Homo sapiens: one gene and its partner. The protein of the gene in region 1 interacts with the protein of each later gene in a pairwise test. Each region holds a gene or a part of one and is shown in the gene's direction. Other genes may lie near its edges.

Region 1 (3,832 bases):
AAACCTTCATTGAAATATAACAAATTCAGAAAAGTGCACAAGTCATAAGCATACTATTGGATGGATTCTACATATTAAGTGTTTAGTTGTCTAACTACTTTTAAACTAGTTATGAAAAAAATACGAAAAAGTGTTTAATTCAGTGATGCATGCACATTGGGTTTTCTGAGCCTAGATAACACTCATGGCTGGTTTCTATCTCTGTTTAGAGGCTGGTTTATCTGCTGATCCGTATGTTTACAACTGGACAGCATGGTCAGAGGACAGTGACGGGGAAAATGGCACCGGCCAAAGCCATCATAACGTCTTCCCTGATGGGAAACCTTTTCCTCACCACCCCGGATGGAGAAGATGGAATTTCATCTACGTCTTCCACACACTTGGTTGGCTTTTACAAACCCCTAAGCTTCTTCTTTACCTTTCCTTAAAATTTCAACCTTCTCTTTTCTTACTCTATAATTGAGAATGATAACACAGAGAGTTAATAACAGTCACCCTGCTAACTTTCCTTAGCATGAGTGAACAGTGAGAGATAAAAATGAAATCTTGGTTAACCTTGCCAAATCTCCAGGACACCGAAGAGTTAAAAAGAGAGAAAAACAAAAAGATTAAGCTCTTTTTCAAAAAAACAAAACCACTTAATTTTTTTCTACCTAAAACCATAACAAGAAAAAATGCTAACACTTATTTATTTGAATGGCACATGGAGACCGGGCATGTGGCTCACACTTGTAATCCCAGCACCTTGGAAGGCGGAGGCGGGTGGATCACCTGAAGTCAGGAGTTCAAGACCAGCCTGGCCAACATGGTGAAGTCCCGTCCCTACTAAAAATACAAAAATTAGCCAGGTGTGGTGGTGCGCACCTGTAATCCCAGCTACTCAGGAGGCTGAGGCAGGAGAATCACTTGAATCCGGGAGGTGGAGGTTGCAGTGAGAGGAGATTGAGCCATTGCACTCCAGCCTGGGCAACAGAGTGAGACTCCATCTCGAAAAACAAACAAACAAACAAAAAACAGAATGGCACATTGATGAGCATTCATTGATTGATTCTTTAGTTTTTTTATGTTCTCTAAAGAATTTTTAAGATTTAAAGAAGCATGTGCTATTTATTTGTAGGAAATCCTCAGAAAAGGTACAAATAAAAAATAAAAATTATCCATAATTAATACCAGAGATTATAATTGTTAATTATTATGGTGTTTTCTTTGCTAGTATTTAAGATCATTATTAAGATCACATACACATTTTTGCTTACTATCATTAGCATTTGATGATATGATTTTTTTAATTTTTATACATTGTTTTAATGGCTGCACGATATTTCATTGTGTACAAATAAAATAACTACTGTTCCGCTTTGACCTAGCCCATTCTGTCTTTTTTTAAATTACAAATGGTATTCATTTTGTTGTATTATTGGGGAAATGATTACTTTTAGAAGGAGCAAATTGAGCTTATTATTAATTAGGCTGCTAAATTCTTAGTTTAAAATGTCACTAGGTGCCACCTGGCACTGAGTATTTGAAAATTGCTACCAATCAAGCAGCCTCCAGATTACTAAATATTTCATCTTTCATCACAGATTAGAGAGAGCTCCTCTTCCTTCAATTAACTTATTTACAAATCAGGACAAAATATTAACAATACATACCCATTGAACAGAGTATAAGCTATGTCAAATATTATGCTCATCTATATAAATCAATTGCCTTAAAGCTAACTTATTTTTCACTGCCATTACGACCCCATTAGCCAACTCACCAAACATTTCTTTGACTTGTCACTCTCATGACAGAATTCTGACATTTTGCATGGAGTCACTTATGTTCACTAACACTCGCCGACTCTTTAGCCTAGTAAACATTCCAATAACTTAACCAGATCAAATGTCTGTATTTAAAATCAACTTTCAGCCTAGAACTTGCTCTGTTTGTCTAACAAGACTGCCTTGAATTTCTGTCTTCCACTGAGGTCTCAGAGTTAACTGATATTCTCCCTCAACTAAGTATGGTCTCACCTCTCAGAGCTGAAACTAACATTTTCCTCACGAATAACCCCTGAGAGACATCTCTTCCCCTTATAACTTCTGATGGAACTACCCCTGCATCTCAACGTGAAGGAGGATTCCAAACCACACATCCCTGGAGAGACCAGTGTGTTTTTCTCACACGTTTGACGGTGTGATACACGGGGTCTTGAAACAACCCGGTCTCAAAAGCATGCAACCTAAGATACCCAGTCAGTGACAGGTCTAAACCAGGCCCCCTGGCAGGATTAGAAAAGTTCTTGATTTGGGAATGATAGTAAGAGGAGTTACAGAGTTTTAAAATTTGTTTAAATGTCCTTGAGCCCTGAAGGAGAGGAATTACTTCCACCTGTTAGCTAGCAGCAGGGAGGGTTGGACAAAGAAAAGGAATGACTCAGGGGTGTCCTAGGAAAGTGCCTGTGGAACCACCCCATTCTGTTTTATGTCTGCCATCCTCTATTTCATCACTTACGGGATTTTTATTTTTATTTTTTTGAGACAGAGTCTCGCTCTGTCACCAGGCTGGAGTGCAGTGGTGTGATCTCAGCTCACTGGAATCCCCGCTCCGGGTTTAACCAATTCGTCTGCCTCAGCCTCCCGAGTAGCTTGGATTACAGGCTCGTACCACCACACCTAGCTAATTTTTTGTATTTTAGTAGAGATGGAGTTTCACCATGTTGGCCAGGATGGTCTCCATCTCCTGACCTCGTGATCCGCCTGCCTCGGCCTCCCAAAATGCTGGGATTACAGGCATGAGCTACCGCGCCCAGCCACTTGCTGTATTTTTATATACAAATACTATTAGGAGATGGAGGATTCCAGTCCCCTTTTAAAAATCCACTTAATAATATAGCGGAAATAGTAACAAAAATAAGGTAGGTTATTGGATAAATAATTTTTTTAACTCTTCTGGACACCTCATCATTATATTAAATGTATTTTCTATGGGGAAAACATGTATTTCAAGTGCCAAATTACTTAGCACAAACAGCATTTATTTGTAAACTAAGGGCTAACTGTTTTATGCCACTAAACAGCTTTTTAAATTTTAACCAACTGTATACAATTACATGTATACAACTGTGGGTTTGTTTTATAAGATTTTACATTAAAATGAGCACCATCTCCCTTTCTGAAGCAGCACCACAGGCCCATCCTATTTTCCCTCCTCAGAGCAATCTATAAATGGTGGTAGCTAGTCTTTAAGGAACAGCTTCCTATAATGATGATATAATGCAGCCAATAACTAAAAATTTCCATCCTCCCAAAGGTCAGTATTTCCAGAAATTGGGACGATGTTCAGTGAGAGTTTCTGTGAACACAGCCAATGTGACACTTGGGCCTCAACTCATGGAAGTGACTGTCTACAGAAGACATGGACGGGCATATGTTCCCATCGCACAAGTGAAAGATGTGTACGTGGTAACAGGTGAGTGGTGTGAACTCTAACTGAGGATGAGGCACTTCATTCTGTTGACGTCAATGGGTTAAAAAAGAGGTAAGGCCAAGTGTTCGGGGTTAGGTTACAATGCATCTGGCCCACCTAAGCTTGTGTATTTAATTAGTTGTAGTTCATCTGTTTTCCAGAATAGCTTAGGGAAACCCCAGAAAACTTGCATGTGAAAAGGAAAATAATGCTAAATTATCCCTCATTTTAATATTTCAACCTAAAAGCATCGTCGAAGCCCTCCACTTACAATCAAGCAATCATGCATTCTTTATTTCTTTGGGGGATGTATCTTTTAGATCAGATTCCTGTGTTTGTGACTATGTTCCAGAAGAACGATCGAAATTCATCCGACGAA
Region 2 (3,832 bases), on another chromosome or scaffold:
AAACCATCAGCTATTGTGAGGAACTCACTCATTATCACAAAAACAACAAGGGAGAAATCAACTCCCATGATCCAGTCATCTCCCACCAGGCCCCTCCTCTGACACGTGGGGATTACAGTTCGAAATGAGGTTCTGGTGGGGACACAGGGCTAAACTATGGCAGTATATAGTTCTGCTTAGGATTTTTCACAGGTGAATACTGTAAGTACTGTTGTTTTCTAGAGCATGAATTCCTTGAGGGTGGGAATATTTTCTTCATCTTTTTATTGCCAGTATTTAGCTTGATGCCCATTTCCAGTGAGTGTGATATAGCACTTGTTCAATAGACGTTAATTGAGCCAATGAGTGAAAAGCCTTAGGGCTGTGCTATGTATGGTTATGATAGAGCTCTACTCTTTGTGTCACTCAAATATTAAATACTGTCATACAATGAACACTTGTGATTTCTATTTACATTTTAGAATTGTATTTTAAGCATTCTCATGTATACACTATAGTTTCTTCCACTTATGTTTCAGGAGGGCCAAACATGTGGGCTATTACCTCTGAAGAACGTACTAAGCATGACAGGCAGTTTGATAACCTCAAACCTTCAGGAGGTTACATAACAGGTTTGTATTTATAATTAGTTTTATTAGTGAATTATGGTCCTTATGTGATATCTAAGAATTAGTTTTAATTTGACTGCCATCAAATTTGTGTTAATAAACGATAAAATTCATATCAATCAGAATTCTAGAAATTAAAGAAATGCTAACTTTATTTTTCCTGGAACTGTCTTAATTTGTTGTTTTAAATTTGGGATATGGAAGATTTTTCCTGAATCCTAAATGATAGTCAAGAATTTCTGTGTAATTGTCTGGTTTCACATTTTAACATTATATCTAGAAAGTTTTCAGTTTATTTCTTAGATTCATTTCATGGAAAATCTAGACTTTTTTTTTCTGGAATCTGTTTTCCTAATGCTAGCCCTCTGTCTTTGAGGCTACACCAAGCACTGATTGTTGATGCTAGCCCTTGTTTTGCAGAAAGACCACCAGAGCCAAAATGGGATTAATTTAGGTGTGCCTTTGAAATTTTTTTCTATTAATTAAACTTTTTTCTGTGCCAAAGTAGCTTAGTGCTTTACATACAATAATAGTAACTATGAGAACAATGATATTTATTGAATTTTTACTATATACCAGATGCTATGCTAAGTGCATTATTTTATTTAACCTTTACAACAACCCTGTAAAGTAGGCACTGTTGTTGTCTATATTTACAAATAGTGAAACTGAGACTAAGAGACGTTATGTAACTGCCTAAGGTTACAAAGATGGTTAGTGTTAATCTGGGCTTTGAAACCATTTGGGCTGATTTTGGAATCCATCTACTTAACCATGTTATTTGTACTGCTATGATAGTAATTACCTTACCTGGTATCAGGATTTGATTACCCTGCTTACAGGTTAATAACTTTGTCCATTACGGGTGGAAGACCCAAGATTCCTGAGTCAGAGACAAAGAACCTTATGACTAACAGCATAACTAGCAAAATGAGCATTGGCATCTATCTTTCTGTTTCCTTTAGTGTTCCCTAAGTCCCACAGAGACAATGCAGAGAGCCCAGGAGAATAGTACACATGCTATGATTGTGTTACAGGAGAGGAACACTGAATTTGGGGAACCCACCCTTTTGTAGCAAGCAGTAAAGCAAGTTTGTCCCTTGTCTCAGTGGGAAACGTTACCGGATTCGTTAAGATTGCTCATTACAAACCCAATTCTGAGAAGTGACCCAGGCAGAGAGCAATTAGGGTCTTACATTATTGGTATACAGAGCAAGACACATAGGAGTGTGAAGAAACTCATGGAGGACTCTCTCTCCTAACACCTGGTACTTTTTATATTGAAACTCTTTTAGGGAATAGTGTTTTTAAATATAAATTTTACTAAGTGGAAGTATTTTTAAGGAAGACCCCAATTGTGGAAAAACTGAGATGAATCATCTTTCATCACTGATTAATATACAATAGAAGTGCAGATGTGACTTTTGTTTTAAAATATCTGTCTTATTAAAGTTATGTAAATAATTTTTATGTGTTTCTATTTCACTTATTCTTTAATGATTGGTATTAAAATTATAATAAATCATTAACATATACCCATTATTATTCAGAAGCATTGGAATAATTTCATTTACTAATGTGCTGCTTGGGTTTTGTTTTTATTACCTCCAGGTGATCAAGCACGTAATTTTTTCCTACAATCAGGTCTGCCGGCCCCTGTTTTAGCTGAAATATGGTAAAGTGTTTTGTAGATGAACCTAATTTTCTGATAGTATTTTGTTTTTTTGTAATATAGTGTTAACATAAAATTGTTTTTAGTTGCATTCTATTGGTTATTAAGAATATTTCTGCCAGCACTTTGGGAGTCTGAGGTAGGAGGATTGCTTGAGGCCAGGCTGGGCAACATAGTGAGAACCCTGTCTCTACAGAAAATTAAAAAAAAAATTAGCTGGGTGTGGTGGCCACACCTCTAGTCCCAGCTACTCAGGGAGGCCAAGATGGAAGGATTGCTTGAGCCCAGGAATTCAGTGCTGCAGTGAACTATGATTGTGTCACTGCACCCTAGCCTGGATGACAGAATGAGACTCTCTTTAGAAAAAAAAAAAAAAAAAAGGTATTTCTTCAGTTTTTTGGAAAATAAATTTTATTGAGCAAATTATTGAAAATAATTCAGGTTTAGTTCTCTAGGACAAATTTCTAATTTCATTAGAATTTTCTAAGGAAAGATATATACATTATCATTGAGAAAAATTTCCTTATAATTTGGCAGAATCTCAAAATCCTCTTTCTGTTATTTTGTAGTTTCATTTATTTCATAATCTATAAACCCCAAATTAGTCCTCGCTTCCCCTGCTCCTTCTTTAAAGAAACTATTCTCTATAATATCTGTTTTTTTAAAAACGTTTACAATAAGTAACAACCCCTGTCCCATCTTTCCACTTGGAATATTCTCATGCCTGGTAGAGTACGAGGCACATAGCAAGTATTCAGTAAATATTTGGACAGATGAATAAATTAAATTTAGAAGTATTATAATCTTGAATTTTTTTCTACCTAAACTGGTGGAATTCAGCCCAAAGGTCTCTAGATTCTGTTTTGACAGGCAGTGTTTTATTAGTTATTATCTCTGGTCAGTATTTCTTAAAGTGTAGGTTTTATCTTTTTGTTATTATATATTTTACATGTTAGATATTTTAAATTTAGTGATGATGTACACGTGAATGCCATATCATCATTTTTACTTTGTCAATCCCCAAAATAACGTTAGTTTTCCCACCACCACACCACATAGCAATCTACCTACCTCATGCTCCTTTTAGGGCTTTATCAGACCTAAACAAGGATGGGAAGATGGATCAGCAAGAGTTCTCCATAGCTATGAAACTCATCAAACTGAAGCTTCAAGGCCAACAGTTGCCTGTGGTTCTCCCTCCTATTATGAAGCAACCCCCTATGTTTTCTCCATTAATTTCTGCTCGTTTTGGTAAGTATGTATTAATTTAAATACCTGTATTTGCTACTTAAACTTTATCCCTAGGCATATTTGAGTATTAGAAAAGGATTTGTTAGCACAAAATGACAGTCCCCAGATTCCAAGTTAATTTTCATGTTAGAGATAATAAATATTAAATTCACTGTCACAGGTAGGGGATCCATGTGTTCTGGTTTTCTAGGGACAGTTCTGATTTATGCCTTTTGTCCTGGCATCTGGTCCAGTTAGTGTCTCCTTTTACAACTCCTAGTTGCGTGATGAATTATATGGTCTCCCTAGGTATAGCCAATCC

What was found.
Region 2: the proteins of GPNMB (region 1) and ITSN2 interact in a two-hybrid assay, tested with the Homo sapiens proteins (one large-scale study listed by BioGRID).

Annotation. Positions count from the first base shown.
Region 1 is NC_000007.14:23,256,683-23,260,514, forward strand, and holds part of GPNMB (transmembrane glycoprotein NMB isoform b precursor), read left to right. Parts: intron 1-209; coding exon 210-383; intron 384-3,297; coding exon 3,298-3,456; intron 3,457-3,773; coding exon 3,774-3,832. UniProt on the Homo sapiens protein: Could be a melanogenic enzyme.
Region 2 is NC_000002.12:24,311,911-24,315,742, reverse strand, and holds part of ITSN2 (intersectin-2), read left to right. Parts: intron 1-518; coding exon 519-611; intron 612-2,219; coding exon 2,220-2,283; intron 2,284-3,367; coding exon 3,368-3,531; intron 3,532-3,832.